Homo sapiens: one gene and its partners. The protein of the gene in region 3 purifies or fractionates together with the protein of the main gene of each other region. This does not show direct contact. Each region holds a gene or a part of one and is shown on either strand. Other genes may lie near its edges.

What was found.
Region 1: the proteins of COPG2 (region 3) and ATL3 purify together in Homo sapiens (affinity purification with mass spectrometry, with the first as the bait; one large-scale study listed by BioGRID). This does not show direct contact.
Region 2: the proteins of COPG2 (region 3) and RTN3 purify together in Homo sapiens (affinity purification with mass spectrometry; one large-scale study listed by BioGRID and IntAct). This does not show direct contact.
Region 4: the proteins of COPG2 (region 3) and ATL2 purify together in Homo sapiens (affinity purification with mass spectrometry; one large-scale study listed by BioGRID and IntAct). This does not show direct contact.
Region 5: the proteins of COPG2 (region 3) and ARL6IP5 purify together in Homo sapiens (affinity purification with mass spectrometry; one large-scale study listed by BioGRID and IntAct). This does not show direct contact.

The regions. Positions count from the first base shown.
Region 1 is NC_000011.10:63,657,183-63,661,799, forward strand, and holds part of ATL3 (atlastin-3), read right to left. Parts: intron 2,071-4,617; coding exon 1,856-2,070; intron 1,781-1,855; exon of another isoform or gene 1,723-1,780; coding exon 1,579-1,722; intron 1-1,578. UniProt on the Homo sapiens protein: Atlastin-3 (ATL3) is a membrane-anchored GTPase that mediates the GTP-dependent fusion of endoplasmic reticulum (ER) membranes, maintaining the continuous ER network. It facilitates the formation of three-way junctions where ER tubules intersect.
Region 2 is NC_000011.10:63,722,421-63,727,037, reverse strand, and holds part of RTN3 (reticulon-3), read right to left. Parts: intron 889-4,617; coding exon of another isoform or gene 872-888; exon of another isoform or gene 1-871. UniProt on the Homo sapiens protein: May be involved in membrane trafficking in the early secretory pathway. Inhibits BACE1 activity and amyloid precursor protein processing. May induce caspase-8 cascade and apoptosis.
Region 3 is NC_000007.14:130,560,012-130,564,628, forward strand, and holds part of COPG2 (coatomer subunit gamma-2), read right to left. Parts: intron 4,383-4,617; coding exon 4,249-4,382; intron 3,326-4,248; coding exon 3,258-3,325; intron 1,211-3,257; coding exon 1,022-1,210; intron 1-1,021. UniProt on the Homo sapiens protein: The coatomer is a cytosolic protein complex that binds to dilysine motifs and reversibly associates with Golgi non-clathrin-coated vesicles, which further mediate biosynthetic protein transport from the ER, via the Golgi up to the trans Golgi network.
Region 4 is NC_000002.12:38,366,445-38,371,061, forward strand, and holds part of ATL2 (atlastin-2), read right to left. Parts: intron 1-4,617. UniProt on the Homo sapiens protein: Atlastin-2 (ATL2) is a membrane-anchored GTPase that mediates the GTP-dependent fusion of endoplasmic reticulum (ER) membranes, maintaining the continuous ER network. It facilitates the formation of three-way junctions where ER tubules intersect.
Region 5 is NC_000003.12:69,094,302-69,098,918, reverse strand, and holds part of ARL6IP5 (PRA1 family protein 3), read right to left. Parts: intron 1-4,617. UniProt on the Homo sapiens protein: Regulates intracellular concentrations of taurine and glutamate. Negatively modulates SLC1A1/EAAC1 glutamate transport activity by decreasing its affinity for glutamate in a PKC activity-dependent manner.

The DNA of each region.
Region 1 (4,617 bases), on a different chromosome or scaffold from region 3:
TGGGCAACAGAGTGAGACTACATCTCAAAAAAAAAAAAAAAAAAAGGACAAACAGGTGTGAAGGCATGCTTATAGGATTGGGCTAAAAACAGAAGTAATGGATGAAAGTCTGTATAAGAAACACATGACTTACCCCTCCCGATCCTTACAAAGAAATCTGTGGAGAGGCTCTATGCCCATAGCTTACAAGGCATAGATGAGACTGGGGCTAAGAAGCCCTACTGATAGCTAGGGGATAGTGAATGCCCACCTTCTGAACAGTGAGATCCCCAATGCCATTTCCCTGCTCAACTCCCAGAACAACAGCCAGGTCTGTGCCACCCATACAGGAGTAAGGAAGTAAAGAACAGAAGTGGTAACACATAAGAGCATCAGCCTCTGGGAAGTGAAAACTGGGTAGAGAGGAGAATAACACACATGACAGCTGCTTTCTGTTAGAAGCCTTACAGTAGTACCTGACCTTTTAAACTATATTCATGCATTTTATTTAAGAATCTTAAAAACAATCAATATGTATTAATTTTAAATCATTCACTTTGATAAAAAGTTGTTTTCACATCTTCCTTCCTTTTATTGAAAAAAAATTTCAGAAAATAACAGTTCATAAAAGACACAAACAAATCAACAGGTATATACCAGTGGAAAACACAATATGAAACTAAAAATGCCATTGGCTTTTTTTTTTTTTTTTTGAGACGGAGTCTCGTACTGTCGCCCGAGCTGGAGGACAGTGGTGTGATCTCGGCTCACTGCAACCTCTGCCTCCCGGGTTCAAGCGTTTCTCCTGCCTCAGCCTCCCAAGTAGCTGGGATTACAGGCACCCACCACCACACCCAGCTAATTTTTTGTATTTTTAGTAGAGACAGGGTTTCACTATGTTGGCCAGGCTGGTCTCAAACTCCTGACCTTGTGATCTGCCCACCCTGGCCTCCCAAAGTGTTGGTATTACAGACGTGAGCCACAGCACCCGGCTGCCACTGGCTTCTTTAATTGGTTAAGAGCACAAAATGTAACAGGCAGAAGGTCTGTTTCAAACAAATTAAAAAGCTATGTGTTTTTTAAATTCTCCCCAAGTTGGATATACACACACCCACAAAAATAGTGTGTGAAGGAAAGCTGTCATACACAGTAAGTTGTATCCTGAATTATTCAAGGAAACACATGTTGAAATAGGAATTAACAGAGTCAGCAACAGATTAATATTTTTTAACTGAGTCTAAAAATGCTACATAGCCCTAAGGAATACTACATAAAGTACTGCTAGGTACAAACAAAAAAGTCTGTATAGCTTTTAGCAAAAATGTTTTTCCAGAAAAGAAAATTAAAATAATGCAATCAGCAGACCAAGGAGACTACAGCTAGACATCAGAGCTACAACTTCGCATACCTGTGTCAGAAAATCCTATTTATCCACAACAGACTAAAATTTCAGGACAAAACAGGGACTTTTTAACTTTTCTTACTTTACCCATTTTAAATTCTTTGATAAAAGGTTTTTAATTGGGTTAACACAGTACATGCTGAAGTTCATATTTTGTTGTTGTTGTTGTTAATCTGTAAGGTCATTTTCATCCTTACCTTCTTCCCACCTGGCTTCTCCACAGTGAAAACTTCACTCCAGATTTGAATCCCAGTGGTTTCTGGATCAGATCCCCCTCTCCAGGAAAATCCTGTTAACGGTTCTTCTGGGTCACCCAACCAATTTGAATGGCCACTTTCCTTCTACAGAAGTAAGAAATTTCTATTAAATCTTAAATTAAAAATTTTATGCATCAAGGATAATCTATGAGCTTATTTCGCTTTTTTGGACATTAAAGTCTCACTTTTTACTTGAAATAAAATAATTCTATCTTACCTGAGAATATAAGTATCGTAGCATAAAATCCAGAATGAAGGACTTGCCCTTTCGGAAGGCACCAGCCACTGAAACCACCACCACATCAAGATCTCGGATGTGGTCCTGCAAGAGGATGCTGGCCAAGGCTTTCTCATCTAGCTCAAAGGAATGTTGATCTTTCTGAACCAAAACAACCTGCACTGGACCAGGCTTGCTGCTCTCCATGGCATCATCTATGTTCATGCAGAGAAAAAAAATCAGTGTCAAATATTTAAAATATGTTTTTGAATATAGGGAAAACAAAAACTTCTTAAACAGGGGACAGGGCCAGGCTCAATGGCTCATGCCTATAATCACAGCACTTTGGGAAACCAAAGCAGAAAGATTACTTGAGGCCAGGAGTTTCAGACTAGCCTGGGAAACGGTGAAACCCAGCGCTATGAAATTTAAAAAATTAGCCATATGTAGTGGTGTATACCTGTAGTCCTAGCTACTTGGGAGGCTGAGGCAGGAAGACTGCTTGAGCCCAGGGGTTTGAGGTTACAGTGAGCTATGACCACACCACTGTACTCCAACCTGGGTGACAAAACTAAACAAAACAAAAAACGGACACAAAAATACTAACCATAAAAGGGCAGGGCACAGTGGTTCGCCCCTGTAATCCCAGCACTTTGGGAAGCCGAGGTGGGTGGATCACTTGAGGTCAGGAGTTCAAGACCAGCCTGGCCAACATGACGAAACCCCATCTCTACCAACAAATACAAAAATTAGCTGGGTGTGGTGGCACGCACCTGTAAGTCCTAGCTACTCGGGAGGCTGAGGCACGAGAATAACTTGAAACTGGGAGGCAGAGGTTGCAGTGAGCCGAGATCATGCCATTGCACTCCCACCTGGGTGACAGATAAGACCCTGTCTCAAGTTAATGGGTGCAGCACACCAGCATGGAACATGTATACATATGTAACTAACCTGCACATTGTGCACATGTACCCTAAAACTTAAAGTATAATAATAATAAAAAATAAATAAAATAAAATGTTGTTAAAAAAAAAAAGACCCTGTCTCAAAGAAAAAAAGTACTATCCATAAAAGAAAATAAAATGACAACACAGACTTCATTAAAATTAAAAACTTTGTTCACTTAAAGACTTCAATAAGTAAAAATGCAAGCCATGGGCTAGGGAAGAGTATTCACAATATCTGTTTCCAAAGGACCCACATCCAGCATCAACATAGCAATCCATAAGAAAAAAATAACAGGCACTTTGTAAGAAAAAGATATACAAATCCTATTAAAAGGTACTTCCATATCATTACTTAACAGGGAAATCTAAATTAAAACCACAATAAGATACCACTACCTGCCCATCAGAATGGCTAAAATTTAAAGACTGACAATATCAACTGTGGGACAGGGTATGAAGCAACCGCAATTCTCACACATTCTGATAGGAGCACAAAATACTAAAGCCACTTCAAAAAACTGTTTGGCTGTATCTACAAAAATTAAATATATCTGTGATCCAGCAATTCTACTCCTAGGTATACACCTAAGAGAAATGAATGCCTATGTCCACCAAAAAACATATATACAAGAATGTTGAGCTGGGCATGGTGGCTCGCACATATAGTCCCAGCTACTTGGAGAGCTGAGGCAGGAGGATTACTTGGGCCCAGGAGTTCAAGACCAACCTGGACAATATTGCAAGACTCTATCTCAAAAACAGAAAGTTCATTATCAGCTTTACTCAAAACAGTCCAAAAGTGGAAATAAAACAATGTCTATCAATAATAGTGTTTGCCACTGCTAAGCTTTATTTAGATATATATATACACATATATATATATTATTTAATCCTCAGAACAACTCTTTGATGTAAATAATACTGCTCCATTTTAAGAAGAAGGAAATGGCCAGGCTCAGTGGCTCACATTTACAATCTCAGCACTTTGGGAGGCCAAGGCAAGCTGATCACTTGAGGTCAGGAGTTCAAAACCAGCCTGGCCAACATGGTAAAGCCCCGTCTCTATAAAAATACAGAAAAAAAAAAAAATTAGCCATGCGTGGTGTCGCACGCCTGTGGTCCCAGCTACTGAAGAGGCTGAGGGAGAAGAATTGCTTGAACCGGGAGGCAGAAGCTGCAGTGAGCCGTGATCGCGCCACTGCACTCCAGCCTGGGTGGCAGAGTGAGACTTGGTCTCAAAAAAAAAAAAAAAGAAGGAAATGAAGGCTTATGAAGGTTCAGCATATTGCCCAACAGGTCCTAGATATAAGCTCAAAAAGATCTTTAGGTGGTTGTATTTTGCATATCACTAGTAATAACTCAAAAAGTTTTAGAAGCTATTAATTCTATAGTTCAAAATTAAGCACTAACTATATTATACTTTCCTTACCAGAGTTTCCCTACCAAAGCACAAAGATAACTAATTAATTTGAAATTCAGGCCAGGCACAGCATCCACGCCTGTAATCCTAGCACTTAGAGAAGCTGAGATGGCAGGATTGCTTGAGGCCAGGAGTTCAAGACCAACTTGGCCAATATAGCGAGAGACTGTCTTAAAGAGAAGAGAAGAGAAGAGAAGGCAAGGGGCCGGGCGTGCTGGCTCACCTGCGCAATCCCAGCACTTTGGGAGGCCGAGGCGGGCAGATCACCTGAGGTTGTGAGTTCCAGACCAGCCTGACCAACATGGAGAAACCCCATCTCTACTAAAAATACAAAATTAGCCCGGTGTGGTGGCACGTGCTTGTAATCCCAGCTACTTAGGAGGCTGAGGCAGGAG
Region 2 (4,617 bases), on a different chromosome or scaffold from region 3:
TGTATTTTTTAGTGGAGATGGGGTTTCACCATGCTGCCCAGGCTGGCCTTGAACTCTTGGGCTCAAGTGATCCACCTGCTTCAGCCTCCTGAAGTACTGGGATTACAGGCATGAGCCACTGTGCCTGGCCTTCAAACTACAAACTCGGCTCACTTCTTCTTTTTTTTTTTTTTTTTCAGACGGAGTCTTACTCTGTCACCCAGGCTGTAGTGCAATGGCATGATCTTGGCTCACTGCAACCTCCACCCCCAGGGGTTCAAGCGATTCTCCTGCCTCAGCCACCTGAGTAGGTGGGATTACAGGCGCCTGCCAATGTGCCCGGCTAATTTTTGTATTTTTAGTAGAGATGGGGTTTCACCAGCTTGACCAGGCTGGTCTTGAACTCCTGATCTCGTGATCCACCCGCCTTGGCCTCCCAAAGTGCTGGGATTACAGGCGTGGGCCATTGCACCCGGCCCAGTTCACTTCTTTCATCTCTAGTTGTGCTGCTTATAATCTTTTGTGTTAAGTGTGGTTTACAATTAAACAGAGGCTTAAACACAGTTTATTTTATCTACAGAATTTTAGGCTGTCACTCTCTGGATCTCTCCCTTCCAAGATTCCTCCTCCCCTTACATTCCACTGACTCAGTGGTTGTGGCTGACCCAAATGCTGTCCACTGCTTAGGTTTTCTATGAAGGTTTAAGCCAGCCTGTCAGGTGCCCACTTCAGCCTGTCCTCTAGCTAAAAGCAGTAAAAATAAAAAACTAATTTCATGCTGTCTCTTCTTACATGTGTCAACTCTCTTTCAGAATCTGACTGCTCCCGTTCATCCTCCAGTGCCTTCGGGTCTTTGTTTTTTAAAAATTTTGTCCAGTTATATGCAGGAAGGTCAGGTCCAGTAAAAGCCTACTTGGCCATAAGAAAAGAAAACCATTCTGACATTGCTTTTAAAAATTACTTCAGATTCCCTGTATATGTAGGTATATAGATTCATTTTTTTTCTTTATGGAATCTTTCTAGCATAGATTCACTTTAAATGATACCAAGATAGGAATTATTTTGTATTCCTTGTTTGGTAACTCTTTTCATTCCACTTTAGCACCCACCATCTGCTGGGTGCTGAACAATGTAGTTTTTACTAATAAATTACGAACATTTTTACATAACAGAAGACACTAACTTTGACAGTAACTAGAAAAATAAGGCACAGAGCTAGAAGTGAAACTGATAAGCAGTAGCACCCTAACGCTGGGGAAATAGTCACATATGTGTAAAAACAGACAAGTATAACAACGTTAACTTAAGGCCGGGCGCGGTGGCTCATGCCTGTAATTCCAGCACTTTGGGAGGCCGAGGCGGGCGGATCACGAGGCCAGGAGATTGAGACCATCCTGGCTAACACAGTGAAACCCCGACTCTACTAAAAATACAAAAATAAAATTAGCTGGGCGTGGTAGCAGGCGCCTGTAGTCCCAGCTACTCAGGAGGCTGAGGCGGGAGAATGGCATGAACCCGGGAGGCGGAGCTTGCAGTGAGCGGAGATTGCACCACTGCACTCCAGCCTGGGCGACAGAGTGAAACTCCTCCATCTCAAAAAAGAAAAAGAAAAAGGAAAAAAAAAAAGAAGAATGTTAACTTCAGCGCTGTCTATAATAGCAAAAAATAGGAAAGAATCTAAATCCTTACCAAAAGAAAATAATATATTCATATAATGGATTACTACATAGCTGTTAAAATGAATAAATTATATAAATTCCAACATGAAAGAAGTTTAAAAACCTAATGTTGAATGGAAAACGTTATACAACAAACATGATAACATGAATGAATGGTTAAAAAGCATAAAACAATACAAACACATTTATTTAAAATAAACTGGAAGGATGTACCAGGTCCATGACGGTGTTACGTCTGGGGAAGGGGAGATGGAGGGCGTGGCCAGGTGGTAATCAAAGAGTCCTTTAGTTTGGAAGCAAATATGACTACCAATGCTAACAATTAACATAAGTTAATTCTACATATAGAGAAGATATGGGTGTAGGCTGCCTTTGTACTTTTCTATATTTTTCCATTTCTTAAAAAAAAAAAAAACAAAACTTTAACAACTTCAATGACTGTGTAATATTCGATTGCACAGTTATACCATAATATACTCAACCAATCTCTAATTGTTAAGACACCGAGATATCTGCCACTATCATAAACTGTGCTATAATGAACATCTGTGTAGTTATTTTTGCACATTTTTAAAAAAGGATAAATTCCAGCTGGGTTCCGTGGCTCACGCCTGTAATCTCAGTATTTTGGGAAGCCAAGGCGGGCGGATCACGAGGTCAGGAGTTCGAGACCAGCCTGGCCAATATAGTGAAACTCCGTCTTTACTAATAATACAAAAAATTAGCCGGGCGTGGTGGCAGGCACCTGTAATCCCAGCTACTTGGGAGGCTGAGGCAGGAGAATCGCTTGAACCCGGGAGGTGGAGGTTGCAGTGACCCGAGATCGTGCCATTGCACTCCAGCCTGGGCAACACGGTGAGACTCTGTCTTTAAAAAAAAAAAAAAAAAAAAAAAAGGGCCGGGCACGGGTGGCTCACGCCTGTAATCCCAGCACTTTGGGAGGCCGAGGTGGGCAGATCACCAGGTCAGGAGATTGAGGCCATCCTGGCTAACATGGTGAAACCCCGTCTGTACTAAAAAATACAAAAAATTAGCCGGGCGTGGTAGCAGGCGCCCGTAATCCCAGCTACTCGGGAGGCTGAGGCAGGAGAATGGCGTGAACCCGGGAGGCAGAGCTTGCAGTGAGCCGAGATTGCGCCACTGCACTCCAGCCTGGGCGACAGAGCGAGACTCTGTCTCAAAAAAAAAAAAAAAAAAAAAAAAAAAGAATTCCTAAAAACAAGATTGCTAGGGCAGTTCTAGGTCTGTTACATATTGCCAACTGCCTTCCAGAAAGGCTGTAACAATTTACATGTACTTCACCAAACTATATGCTTATTTCCTTGCATCCTGCCAATCTGGATACTAAAACACAAAAAACTATCTTCACTACACTAGGTATGTGAGAGGCAGGGATCTGATTTTCTTCCCCAAACTATGAGAGTCTATCATAACTTAATTACTCAGCAACCAACTATAATATGATAAAGGCTTCATTACAAGCTGTTACATAATATACCATAAAATAGCAAAAACAAACAGAAAACCACTAATTCTTTCATTGTTTCTTTTGCCTATTTTCCCAAACAACTTAAGGCAGAATATAATTAAAGCACTGTTTTTACCTTAGAAAGGAAGAATATGCAGATACACGTATTTAAAACTAGACAATCGGCTGTGTGTGGTGGCTCAGGCCTGTAAATCCCAGCACTTTGAGAGGCCAACGCAGGCGGATCACTTGAAGCCAGGAGTTTGAGAGACCAGCCTGGCCAACATGGTGAAACCCCATCTCTAGTAAAAATACAAAAAATTAGCTGGGCGTGGTGGCACACGCCTGTAATCCCAGCTACTCGGAAGGCTGAGGCAGGAGAGTCGCTTGAACCCTGGAGGTGGAGGTTGCAGTGAGCCGAGATCGCGCCACTGCACTCCAGCCTGGGCAACAGAGTGAGACTCTGTCTCAAAAAATTAAAAAAAAAAAAAAAAAGATAAATAAATAAAACTAGACACTGATGCATTTTACTGAAATGGTTTATGTTTTTATTTATTTATTTCACTGCAATGAAATGGATTATATTTTTAAAGATTTATTCATAAATAAGACAATTTTAAAAGGTTTTCACTTTTGAAAGCTGCAAGAAAGGCCTTTAAACTTCTTGGTCTAACTATACCGGTCTTCTTTAATTACAATCTAAAAACATACACTAATCATAGACTTTGGTCAGTGACAAATATCCTGAACTTCCATAGCCCTTTACATCTCTCACGCTAGATTAAATAATTCAGTTGATAATCACTAATAATTAGCATTTACACAGCACTTTATTTACTGCAACATACAAAGCAGGGCAAAATAATGATCATCACATTAACAAAGGAAGATGCTGAACCAATTAGACTAGTCATCTAAGGTCATGCTAAAACAGGAATTTGCCAGAATTAGACACTGGAGTTCTTGTAGCATAATTCCTATATGCCTTATTGCCCAAAAGTTACTACCTGTAAGAATTATGACAACTGAGGAAGAAATCTAGAATGTACCAGAGCCAGAGAATCATATTATTTAAATGATAATTGAAGACCATCTACTTCACTTTACATCCTCACTTTACAGATATTAAAACTGAGGCCCCCGAAAGGTTATGTAAGTTACTTGTTCAAAGTCATACTTCTAGACACAGCACAGCAAGAATTAGAACCTAGTACTCTTTAATCCAAATTCAGTGAGCTTCAAATGCTAGAGTATAAGAGCTATCCTTAATTGGTAATTCAAAATTTTTGGTTTATCAAAAAGCCTCAATGTCTTTCACTGATAATTGTTAGTGAAATAATTCATATCATTCATTCAACAAATAATTATCCAGTACTACTTATGTGGCAGGCCCTGTATTTGGTGCTAAATCTGACTGCATATTTACTATGTGCTAGGCACTGTATTACCTGCATTTTCATATTTAATCCTCACAATACCATTGTAAGGTTA
Region 3 (4,617 bases):
TTTAATTAGGCAAGAAAAACAAAGGAAAGGCATTTGGATTGGATATAAAGAAGTAAAACTGCCTCTATTCACAAATGGCACAATTATTTATATAGATAATCTCAAGGAATACGTATAATGATGACTAGAACCAGTAAAAGTACTCAGCAAGGTTACAGGATACCAAGTTAATATGGAGAAGTATTTTTTAAAAGTTTTTCATTAATAGTAAACAATAAAATAAAAATTTTAATAAAATATCAAAAGCATAAAATATTTAGATATAAATTTAACAACAGATTTGCAAGACCTCTAGAGTAAACACTACAAAACACTGCTCAGAGAAATTAAAGAAGATCTAAAGGGAGAGATATACCATATTCATGAAATAGAAAAATAATGTTAAGATGTCAGTTCTCCCCAAATTGATTTATAGATTCAACACAATCCCAGTCATAATCCTAGCAGGCTTGTTTAGTAGAAATTGATAAATTGGTCCTAAATTTCATAGGAAATGCAAAGGAACCAGAATATTAAAAAAGAAAAAGTTGGAAGACCGCACTACTTAAGAGGTACCATAATGCTACATTAATCAATATTAGTGTGGTACTGGTACTGGATTGACAAACAGTTCAGTAACATAATACAAAGCCCAAAAATATACCTAAAATATATGGGTATTTGCTTTGTAGACAAAGGTGCCAAAGCACTCCAACAGGGAAAAGGAAGTCTTTCCAACAAATTATGGTGGAATACAGTAGATATAGGTATGGAAAAAATACTGAACTTACCAAACAAACAGTAATTCAAGTTGGATCATTGCCTAAAATGTAAAATCTAAAACCATAAAGCATTTAGCCTAAAGCATGAGAAAACAAGTAGATAAAGGTTTCTTAGGGAACAGTAATAACTATGAAAGAAAAAAATTGATAAATTAGACTTCATAAAAATTTAAAACTTCTGCTTCTCAAATGATACCGTTAAGAAAATAAATAGGCAGCCAACAGACTGGGAGAAAATATGATCATGTTTAAACTCTTACCTTGAACTCATCTGAGATTTCAGACACAAAAGAAGATATCTGCTTCATGAGCCGGTCCACACTGCTCTCACTTCCTGTTTTGAGGAGTGTAGTAATGGCTAAGGTAGCAATGCTTCTGTTTGAGTCTGTGATTAAGTTTTCTAAGTCCAGATTGCAGGCAGTAACAGCAGAGGGGTGCTTCATTGCCACCTTGTGGAAGGGCAAGAAAAAAAATTAAGCAAATTGCTTTTGATAAAGGCCAGAACTTAAATTTTAATTGAGGTAAGTGGCAATCCAAAGAGGACAGGATAAGTTAAAAGTAATTGCTTCAAAAACAAAAAGAATGGCTCCAGTTAACAAGGTATATCTTTTAATAAATGATCAACGGCCAGAGTATAGCATCGTACTCTCTTTTGTTAGGTTCCTCTAACCTTTCTAACATTACCATTTTTAAAAAATTATAATTGGCCTGTATTTCCTTATAGTACGTGTGTTCATATACGTCTATTCTATTAGATGTTAGGAGTACTGACAACAGGATCTAGCATAGTAGTCAGTGCTCGACAAAGACTGTTAATATCTTATCAGTTAAAAAATACTGCTGCATTTCAAGACGCAAACTCCAGCCAAACTGCATTATCTATGGTTACTACATGGTCTGCCATTCTCCTGCATCCTTGTTTTTGTTGATGTTGTCCCACCTCTTTGTCTATCCCAATATTGGTATGGAATCCCTTACCCACAATTTGGAAAATCTGAAAACACTCTGGAAAGCAGAGCACTGGGATGAAAATCCATTTAACAGCAAAACATGACCCAAACTAATGCGAAACTCTTTAATTCTTAATTTATACCACTTGACAAGGATAGTCATATGTTTTGTGCAAAAATATTAATGTTTTTTAATGGTGGGATGCTGCCCCAGGCCCACTGGGGTTAGTAAATAAGAGATAACACCATATAACCTTTCTAAAATTTAACTAAAAGCAAATTCTGAGACACATCTGGCCCCAAGATTAGAGATGAGGGATTGTAGACCTGTATCAACTCTTTAAAAACAATTTAGGCCAGGCTTGGTGGCTCATACCTGCAATCCCAGCACTCTGGGAGGCCGAGGTGGGCAGATCACCTGAGGTCACGAGTTTGAGAGCAGCCTGGCCAACATGGCGAAACCCTGTCTCTACTAAAAATACAAAAATTAGCCGGACGTGGTGGCAGGTGCCTGTGATCCCTGCTATTTGGGAGGCTGAGGCATGAGAATCGCTTGAACCTGGGAGGCGGAGGTTGCAGTGTGCCAAGATCGTGCCACTGCACTCTAGCCTGGGAGACAAAGTGAGACTCTGTCTCCAAAAAAAATAAATAAATAAAAAACCATTTAAATTGTTGTTCTATAAAGGTTTCTTCCATGGCTGCTCTAAACTTCTCTTTTCTTCGACTGTTTACACAATTAATTTATAATTATGTATTGCCTATGACAAGTCTTCTATTACATTTAACTTTCATTTACATTTTCTATGCTTATTTAATTTATTCTGTGTTTCTGTATTATATCCTCTAAATCTATACTGTCTAATAACATAGCCAACAGCAACATGTGACTACCAGGCATTTGAAAGGTGGCTAATCCAAACTGAGTATGCTGTAAATGTAAATATACTGGATGTCAAAAACTTGAGATATGTAAAAATATCTATTACATGTTGAGATGACATATTATATGTATTATGATAAAATATACTATTAAAATTAATTTTACCTTAAAAATTTTAATGTGGTTATTATGAAATTTAATATTACATATGTGATTCACAGTGGGTTTCTACTGGACAGGGCTGCTGTAGACCAGCACTGTGCAAGAGAACTTTCTTCAATGACAGAAATGTTCAAGATCTGCACTGTCCAACAGCCACTGACCACATGTGGCTGTGAGTACAAGAAGTGTGACTCATGTGACTGAGGGTTGAATTTTTTATTTTAATTAATTTAAATTGAAATAGCCACTGGTGGCTAATGGCCACCATATTGGACAGTGTGGCTCTTGAATATAAAATGCTTAGAAGTCAGAAATGAGTTATAATCTTCAGCTAAATAATAATAAAAATGAGCATACTCAAGGCCACAAATACAAGTGAAGTGTTGTAGAGGTGAAGCCCATAAATCACATATACTAACCTTGGAGAGAAAACCAAATGCTTCACATTTAATGTTTCTCAATTAAATACTGATATAAGTCAATAATTAGCAAAGAAACACCTACCTTGTTCAAGGTCCTCACAGCTGCATATCTCAAGGCTGGCTTAGGAGAACTACAGAAAAGTTGAAGAACTAAAAAAAAATAATAATAATAATATGTAACATTAAGTAATATTACATATACATACCGTGAATACTCCTGGCTTAAGAGAACTATAGAAAAGTTGAAGAAGTAAAATACAGATATAGATACAGTGACTATTACCTATATATGCTGTGAATATTCCTTATCTCATCATATACCATATAGCTGAAAATATAGTACATAATGAATCACATTCAAAATATGCATACATTTTATCACAGCATCAAAAATTTACATGAAAAATGTAACATCAAAATAGAAAAAGCACTTTTGGGGCGCCTGTAGTCCCAGCTACTCGGGAGGCTGAGGCAGAAGCATGGCGTGAACCCAGGAGGCAGAGCTTGCAGTGAGCCGAGCTATCGTGCCACTGCACTCCTGCCTCAGTGACAGAGTGAGACTCCGTCTCAAAAAAAAAAAAAAAAAAGAAAAAAAAAAAAGAAAAAGCACTTTTGGTCAGTTATAAAAACTTAAATAAGAAACAAAGTTTGCTCTTTTTAAAAAAAAATTAGAATACCCATTAATACCTGAACTAAATGGTAGAAATATTGACAGTTCTGAAAACAAATGGGCTTTTTAAACACCAAGGAAAACTGTAAAATGTTTTCAAAAGTTTCATACGAGGAAACAGAAACTTTAAAAAAAAGCAATAAAGAACTATTATTAATAAACTATGTACATATAAATAAAATTCTTTCAAAAGTTTTATATGGAGAAATAGAAACATTAAAAAAAGTAATAAAGTAAGGAACAACTAAAATAAACTATCTACATATAAGCTATCAGAATGCAAAGGCTATATATACACAGAGCTAGTGTTCAGAAAACATTCTTAATACCTATTCTGTAGACCTATGAAACTTAAAGCAAAAACTTAGGAACATAAAAGCCAGCCATCAAATATAAAACAAACCTGAAACAGCAGGTGCCAACTCTCTTGCAGTGCAGTTAGGAAGATGGATGATAGCTGAAGCAGCTTCATAAATAACCATTTCATGTTTATTTCGCAAGCAGCTCTCAATGAAATCAAACAGTGGACTTTCATGGCTGCCAATAAATATTTATAGGCCATTATTTAGATATCAAATAGAGAGGCAATATGCATAGGGATTAAAAGCACAGGCAGATTGAGAGGCACTTCTGGAATGGTGGATGAGGGATTTCTAAAAATTCATTTCATCACAAAGCAATTAGAACACTGGCAAAATTGTCAAAATCAACTTTTGCAGAACTCTAAAAAATTAATCAAAGATTTGCAACAATCCTGAACATCTATTTAAGA
Region 4 (4,617 bases), on a different chromosome or scaffold from region 3:
TTTAGATTGAAAATTCTCAGAAATCAGGGTCAAATGTTTAAATTATGTCATAAAAAGTTACCAAAATACTGCCTATCTTTTTTATCTTCAAACCAGTGGCATAGCCTACACTTTGCTCTCTAAGATCTACCCATTCTTCAAAGCACGACAAAGCCTCCCTCTTCCATGAAGTATTCCTCAACAACTCTAGCACACGGCAATTTCTACTTCAGAACATATAAGCTTAACGATAAACTTAACTCACAAATATGCATAAAGTCTCTATGATCTACGTGAAAGCTTAGAACAAGCATCTGTCTACATTATTTTTTGTAGGTATTCACTATAAGCAGCTCAAAAGCCCTTTTATAAGGTAGGTACACAGTATGTCAACTAAAACTATCAAGGGAAAAAAGCTAATTATTTGTCTAAGTATGGTCCTCTATTTGCCTGTCCCATTCCGGCCTCTAGTCCCAAAAGAAAACTAACCCCAGCCCCTTCATGTCCTACCCTCAAGAGAAGAGATGATAACTTTGTGCACTTAGTACATGCCAAACACTTTAAGACATTATCTTTATTACTATTATTATTTTTTTTAGCAACAGAGTCTCACTATGTCGCCCAGGCTCAGCTCCATCCTGCAGCCTCAGCCTCCCAAAGTGCTGGGATTAAAGGCACGAGCCACCGCACACAGCCAAGACATTATCTTTTAATCTTAGAACTTTTCAGGTAGGTTTTTTTTTAGGTTTTAAGAAACTAAAACTTATTTGTAGAGATCTGAACCTAGCTTCTAAGCTTGCTTTTCTTCTACCACGCTACTAGGCACTGAAACAGATGCCCACTCTCCGACAATAAAAAGAGATACGAATAAACAATCAATATATGATTAACAATTTAAGGCCGGGCGCGGTGGCTCATGCCTATAATCTCAGCACTTTGGGAGGCCAAGGCGGGCAGATCACGAGGTCAGGAGATCGAGAACATCCTGGCTAACACGGTGAAACCCCGTCTCTATTAAAAATACAAAAAAAAATTAGCCGGGCATGGTGGCGGGCGCCTGTAGTCCCAGTTACTACAGAGGCTGAGGCAGGAGAATACCATGAACCCGGAAGGCGGAGCTTGCAGTGAGCCACTGCACTCCAGCCCGGGGAACAGAGCAAGAATCCATCTCAAAAAAAAAAAAAAAAAAAAAACCGCCCATTTAAAACAACTTTTTTTTTTTTTTTGAGACGGAGTTTCACTCTTTTCACCCAGGCTGGAGTGCAATGGCGCGATCTCGGCTCACTGCCACCTCCGCCTCCAGGGTTCAAGTGATTCTCCAGCCTCAGCCTCTGGAGTAGCTGGGATTACAGGCGCTTGCCACCATGCCCAGCTAATTTTTGTATTTTTAGTAGAGATGGGGTTTCACCATGTTGTCCGGGCTGGTCTCGAACTTCTGACCTCAGGTGATCCTCCCACCTTGGCCTCCTAAAGTGCTGGGATTACAAACGTAAACCACCACGCCCGGCCTAAAACAACTTTTTTTTTTTTTTGAGGAGTCTCGCTCTCTCTCCCAGTCTGGAGTGCAGTGGCGCAATCTCGGCTCACTGCAAGCTCCACCTTCCGGGTTCACACCATTCTCCTGCCTCAGGCTCCCCAACAGCTGGGACTACAGGCGCCTGCCACCACGCCCGGCTAATTTTTTGTATTTTTAGTAGAGATGGGGTTTCACTGTGTTAGCCAGGATGGCCTCTATCTCCTGACCTCATGATCCACCCACCTCAGCCTCCCAAAGTGCTGGCATTACAGGCGTAAGCCACCGCACCTGGACTCTAAAATAAGGACTTTTTTTTTTTTTTTTTAATTTGAGACGGAGTTTCACTCTTGTTGCCCAGGCTGGAGCGCAATGGTGCAATCTCAGTTCACCTCAACCTCCACCTCCCAGGTTCAAGCGATTCTCCTGCCTCAGCCTCCCTAGTAGCTGGGATTACAGGCATGTGCCACCACGCCCGGCTAATTTTGTATTTTTAGTAGAGGCGGGGTTTCTCCATGTTGGTCAGGCTGGTCTCGAACTCCCCACCTCAGGTGATCCGCCCGCCTTGGCCTCCCAAAGTGCTGGGATTACAGGCATGAGCCACTGCACCCAGCCATAACAACTTTTTAAAAGCACTCCAATAGCATGCCTAAAGACTAAGACTACCACTAATAAGTTCAAAAAAATTGCCAATTTATTTAAGAAAAACATGAAAGAAACCAACACACACAATTCTCACCAAAAAAATACAAAATTAAAAAGCAAATATGAAAAATAATTTCCTGCATGCAAACAGGCTTTTACAAAACAATAAAAGAAATACTGGGAAATGCTCAAAAAATATTAAAAAGCAATTAATAAAAAGAAGTCAGAGCTGGGCACAGTAACTAACGCCTGTAATCCCAGCACTGAGAGGTGGAGGTTGGAGGATCGCTTAACCCCAGGAGTTCGAGACTAGCCTGGGCAACATAGTGATACCTCATCTCTAAAAAAGTAAATAAACTAATTCACATTTTCAATTTCCATATCACTATTCCAACATCAACTACAATCAAAAAATTGCAAATTAAACTGTAATATGCCCATTTTTACCTATATGTTGGCATTTATTTTTAATTAACACCCACTGTGAACAAAGATACTTGCAAACAAGCACAAACCTAACCCTGATGAATAAATGGGTAAAACCTTTCTGAATGGATCTAGCTTTTTCTTGAAAATGTACATGTCAGGCCAGGTGCAGTGCCTCACACCTGTAATCCCAGCACTTTGGGAGGCCAAGGTGGGTGGATCACCTGAGGTCAGGAGTTCAAGACCAGCCTGACCAACATAGTGAAACCCCCATCTCTACTAAAAATACAAAATTAGCTGGGCGTGGTGGCACATGCCTGTAATCCCAGCTACTTGGGAGGCAGAGGCACGAGAATCAGTTGAACTCAGAAGGTAGAGTGAGCCGAGACTGCTCTACTGCACTCCAGCCTGGGCGACAGAGTAAGACTCTGTCTCAAAGAAAAAATAAATAAATTTTTTTAGTAGAGACGGGGTTTCACTATGTTGGTCAGGCTGGTCTCGAACTCCTGACTTTGTCATCCACCCGCCTTAGCCTCCCAAAGTGCTGGGATTACAGTCGTGAGCCACCATGCTCGGCCAATTTTTTTTTTTTAATTAGCCAGGCATGGTGGCACACACCTGTAAGTCCCAGCTACTCAGGAGACTAAGGCAGGAGGTTCACTTGAGCCCAGAAGGTGGAGGCTGCATATTTGAGACCCTATCTCAAAAATAAGTACATAAATAAAAAATAAAAATTAAAGTGCTGATAAAAAGAAAACAGCAATTTATGAAGATGCTATTAATAGCCATCTTGAAAAAATTCTAAGAACAGGGGTGTTTTCCCGTCAAAACTCCTCTCGGATTTGTCATTAAAAAAAATCAAAGCCGGGCGCGGTGGCTCACGCCAGTAATCCCAGCACTTTGGGAAGCCGAGGCAGGTGGATCACGAGGTCAGGAGATTGAGACCATCCTGGCTAACACGGTGAAACCCCGTCTCTACTAAAAAAAATACAAAAAATTAGCCGGGCGAGGTGGCGGGCGCCTGTAGTCCCAGGTACTCGGGAGGCTCAGGCAGAAGAATGGCGTGAACCCCGGGGGGCGGAGCCTGCAGTGAGCCGAGATCCCGCCACTGCACTCCAACCTGGGCGACAGCGAGACTCCGTCAAAAAAAAAAAAAAAAAAAAAGAAAGAAAATCAAGACCGGGCGGTCGCTCACACCTGTAATCCCAGCACTTTGGGGGCCGAGGTGGGTGGATCACCTGAGGTCAGGAGTTTGAAACCAGCCTGGTCTGTCTCTACTAAAAATACAAAAATTAGCCGGGCACGGTGGCGGGCACCTGTAATCTCAGCTGCTCGGGAGGCTAAGGCAAGAGAATCACTTGAACCTGGGAGGCGGAGGTTACAGTGAGCCAAGATCGCGCCACTGCGCTCCAGCCTGGGAGACAGAGTGAGACTCTGTCCCAAAAAAAAAAAAAAAAAAAAAAAAAAAAAAAAAATCAACCCAGCCAGCACAGTGGCTCATGCCTGTAATCCCAGCACTTTGGGAGCCCAAGGCGGGCGGATCACTTGTGGTCAGAAGTTTGAGACCAGCCTGACCAACGTGGTAAGACCCGTCTCTACTAAAAAATACAAAAATTAGGCGTGGTAGCGGGTGCCTGTAGTCCCAGCTACTTGGGAGGCTGGGGCAGAAGAATCTCTTGAACCCAGAGGTGGAGGTTGCAGTGAGCCAAGACTGTGCCACTGCACTCCAGCCTGAGTGACAGAGCAAGACTCGATCTCAAAACGAAACAAAACAAAACAAAACAAAAAAATCAACCCCTGGCCCAGCAGGGTAGTGCAAGCCTGTAGACCTAGCTACATAGTAAGCTGAAATGGCGGGGGTGGGGGGTGCACCCCAGAAGTTCAAGGTTGCAGCGAGCTATGATTGAGCCACTGCACTCCAGCCTGTGCAACAAGGCTAGCCCCTATCTCGGGGGGGAAAAAAATAAGGAAAAAAATACAAAAAGATAAAAAAGATTAGGAAATGGCAAAAATCAACTCCCCCATTCTGATAAAGGTGAAATTAAACCAACTTT
Region 5 (4,617 bases), on a different chromosome or scaffold from region 3:
ATATTAGTGGTATTTATGATTAAAAACTTTCAGAAACGACCTATATGGCCAACAATACCAATAGCTGTGGTATTGTATACACAGCTATTTTTAAAACATTGAAGTGCATTTAATAATATGGGAAGACATTATATATTGAGTGGGTAAAAGCAATTGTAATACATAATGCATTGTCTGTTAGGTAGATTTATCATATAAGTTAGATAGCTCAGAAGTAGAAGTTTCTAGGCTGAGTACAGTGGCTCAAGCCTGTAATCCCAGCACTTTGTGGGGGCCAAGGTGGGTGGATCTTTTGAAGTCAGGAGTTTGAGACCAGCCTGGCCAACGTGGTGAAACCCCACCTCTACTAAAAATACAAAAATTAGCTGGGCCTGGGCTGGGCATGGTGGCTCATGTCTGTAATCCCAGCACTTTGGGAGGCTGAGGCGGGCAGATCACCTGAGGTCAGGAGTTCAAGACCAGCCTGGCCTACATGGTAAAACCCTGTCTCTACTAAAAATACAAAAAATTAGTTGGGCTCGGTGGCGGGAGCCTGTAATCTCAGCTACTCGGAGGCTGAGGCAGGAGAATTGCTTGAACCTGGGAGGCGGAGGTTGTAGTGAGCCGAGATGGTGCCATTGCACTCCAGCCTGGGCAACAAGAGCAAAACTATGTCTCAAAAAAAAAAAAAAAAAAAAAGCCAGGTATGGTGGCAGGCACCTGTAGTCCCAGTTACTTGGTAGGCTGAGGCAGGAGAATCACTTGAACCCGGGAGGCAGAGGGTGCAGTGAGCCGAGATTGCGCCACTGCACTCCAGCCTGGGTGACAGAGTGAGACTCTGTTTCCAAAAAAAAAAGAAATAGAAATTTCTATAATTAGTATATTATTTCATAATCAGAAATAAAATGAATATATAAAAAAGGAAATACAAAAACATAAAAGCAGCTGCTCTCCAACCCACAACCGCCGCTTGGCACAGACCAACCACAAAAGTCCATCTCTACTTGTCCCATCTCGCCAACAACATTAATGGAATTTCAGTTCATGAACCACAGCGAAGCTGTTCCTTCTCCAATCCAAATCCTGGTTTTCTGCTCATCCTCCAGATCCTCTTGTGCCAGTCTATAGCACCCCAGTGCCCCAACCTTCCCCAATACCCAGCACATGTGCTATTCTCTCTGCCCTCTTCCCCTCCCTCTTGGTTCTGTGTTACCTGGGTCTACTTGGCCTCTCTGCACTTTCTTTCTGTTTTATTTTATCTGGATTATGCCCTGTCTTCTGAGACAACCCCGGAATTGGTCTGGGAAAGAAAAAATTCCCTTATACGCCTGAGGAAGGAAAGAATCTGATGAATCAAAACCACAATCCCCTTCAGCAGGTTGTAGAGAGTGGAGAGTGAATGAAGAGGCCTTGAAACTCTTATAGATTAATATTATCTAATTCCCAGCATCACAAAAGATTCTAAGCCAGTGTGGTAGCTCATGTCTGTAATCCCAGCACTCTGGGAAGCCGAGGTGGCGGATGCATCGCTTGAGCCCAGGAGTTTGAGGCCATCCTAGGCAACATGGCGAAACCCCATCTCTCCAAAAAAAAAAAAAAACACCCCACAAAAATTAGCCAGGTGTGGCAGCACACACCTATAGTCCCCACTACTTGGAAAGCTGAGGTAGGAGGATCATCTGAGCTCAGAGGTCAAGGCTGCAGGGAGCTGTGATGGTGCCACTATACTCTAGCCTGGGTAACAGAGTGAGATCCTGTCTCAATTAAAAAATAAAAAGATACTTAGAGAAACTGAAAAATTATACCAAAGACTACAGTATAGTAGGATAAGGGGAGTTTATTTCCATTTGCTTATTTTTATTTTCATATTTTTTTCAATGGCCATGTATTCCTTGATGAATAAAAAAAATTGGTATTTAAAAATGAACAAATGAAATTGGGGAAAGGCTCCTGAATGTAAAAAACCCTTTACAAAGCCTTGACTTTGACCTATAACCTACCCAAATGTTTCTTCTGAGCCGTAAAGAAAAACAAAGATCGCCAGGTACAGTGGCTCACACCTGTAATCCCAGCACTTTGGGAGGCTGAGGCAGGTGGATCACAAGGTCAGGAGATCAAGACCATCCTGGTCAACATGGTGAAACCCCGTCTCTACTAAAAGTACAAAACTAAGCCTGGCTTGGTGGCATGTGCCTGTAATCCCAACTACTTGGGAGGCTGAGGCAGGAGAATTGCTTGAACCCGGGAGGCGGAGGCTGCAGTGAGCCGAGATTGTGCCACTGCACTCCAGCCTGGGTGACAGAGCGAGATTCCGTCTCAAAAAAAAAAAAAAAAAAAAAAAAGCAAAGCAAAACAAAGATCAAATCAACACAAAGAACTCAAATGGAGGATTGAAATTCAAGGAAATTCCTTTGCATACCCTGCAAGTAGGAGTGGGTTGGCTGGCAGCAAAGCATCAAAGGGCTCCTACTCAGTTCATTCTGGAATACTTATTAAAATAATAATTCATGAAGTGAAGCATATAACAAAATTCATGTCAAGCTGTTTTTATTTTCCTCTAGACAAGTAAAATACATATTTAGGTTGAGTGCCTAAAGTCCAGGACAAGGAACAATGAAAAATCCAGGCCTAACTCAAGCAATTCCAAATTTGTTTCACCTGTTCTGGTTGCTCATGTCCAAGAGAAAAGAACAGAGCCTGAAGTTCTATAGAACTGGTTTTAGTTCATAACCTGCCCAACAACAGTCTATAATTAGAAAGCAAGCAAGTTTCCAAGCTGGAAAAAAACTAACGAAGTTACTCTGAGCAGAAATTATTTTCTTCTGTATCTGATAAAATGTATACCACTCCAATGCCCTGGCACTTACCTGTATTTGGAACAAAAGACAGACAGACAGACAGACAGACACACACACACACACCCTCTACAGATTAACAGAAATTCTCAGAAATCTGGGAACCAGTTCTTGCCTGAGATGCTTTTTAGTCAACAGTTGGGCTGTTTATCACAGCAATCACGACAAACCCCAAAGACTTTTAGGACAAAACTTTCCATAAACATGCCACCCATCTTTCATGTAGACAGCTGCCTCTGTGGTCTGCTGGGTGGAGTTTCACTTACTGATAGTCCTAGAGTAAGAAAGAGGGCTGGGTGCGGTGGATCATAACTGTAATCCCAGAACTTTGGGAGGCTGAGGTGGGTGGATCAGCTGAAGCTAGGAGTTTGAGACCAGCCTGGCCAACATGGCGAAACCCCATCTCTACTAAAAACATAAAAATTAGCTGGGCGTGGTGGCGCATGCCTGTAATCCCAGCTGTTCAGGAGGCTGAGACACGAGAATCACTTGAACCTGGGAGGTGGAGGTTGAAGTGAGCTGAGATTGTGCCACTCCAGCGTGGGTGACAGAGCCAGACTCCGTCTCAAAAAAAAAAAAAAGAACGAGGGATGGTGAGAAAGAAGGGAGAAACAGCAGGACCTAGTTTTGCAACTCAAAAACCGTTATGTTTTTCTATTGTGAAATTAAAAATATATTAATACATATGTTTGTATATATTTTAATTATATATATTTAAAATATGAACATGTATTACCCAATTCCAATAAATAATTAATAAATCTTTCCCTATAATAGTTACACATTCTAGAGCAGTCATTTATGGTTATAAAAAGGTTTAGAATCCCATCACAGAAATTTTGTAGCAGTCTTCAAAGATGAATCAGTCTAGTCCAATTATACAGATAACTAAACTGAGGCCCAGAGAAGAAACATATCCAAAGGGATCCAGGAGAGAAACAAGAAAACAAGGGTGCCAGTTGTGGCAGCAACTCACAGTAGAACCCATTCTGTCATGTTAACCGGCTTTAAGGATTTCCCCCACACTCTAAGTAACCTACTATAACCAAGGATCATCCTGGAAAATCCCTCTGCACTCTCATTTCTCTCTGAAACAAGGTGGCTATTAGTGGGTGTGGATACAGGTCCTAAACTTCCCAACGTGATTCAGTAGCTATGTCTATAGTTTTACCACAAGTTACTGAAAGGGGAAAAAAAAATCTCACAAAATTTTAGAGCTAGGAAGGATCTTGCTAACCCACCTCATTTTACACGTAAGCAAGCTAAAGAATATACAAGTTAATAAATTTGTCCAAGGCCACCAATTGCAAAGTTGGCAATAAAAGTTTGCCATAACAGAAATCCTCGGATCAACTCAAGGCCACATTTGGTGACTCCTGTCAGGCTGCAAGGCCAAAAAGAACCACCAAAGAGGCAGCAAAATATTTCCTGAGGAGTACAGGCAGCTTTGCACTGAGTTCCAATTTTCTAGCCGAAAAAGCTATTTTTGAAGTGTGGTTTCTGAGGAAGGCTGACTCACCGAAAAAGTGGGGAACAATATACTCACGGTGGACTTCTCTAAATTGGCGATGTTTCTCTGTGGTCCTTAATCAGCCAGAGGGATCACTGCAAATATGAACCCACCCAACCATTTTCTTTTCATTGTTCTTAAACTAAAAACAGAATTCTTTAAACATTCTACAAGGCTTCGCAGGGTCTGGCCCCTGCCTGCCTCTGCAGCCAGGGCCACTGTATATAGGTGTGGAGTTGGTGCCTGGCTGAGGGGGTAAGTGGGGCCTGGAAT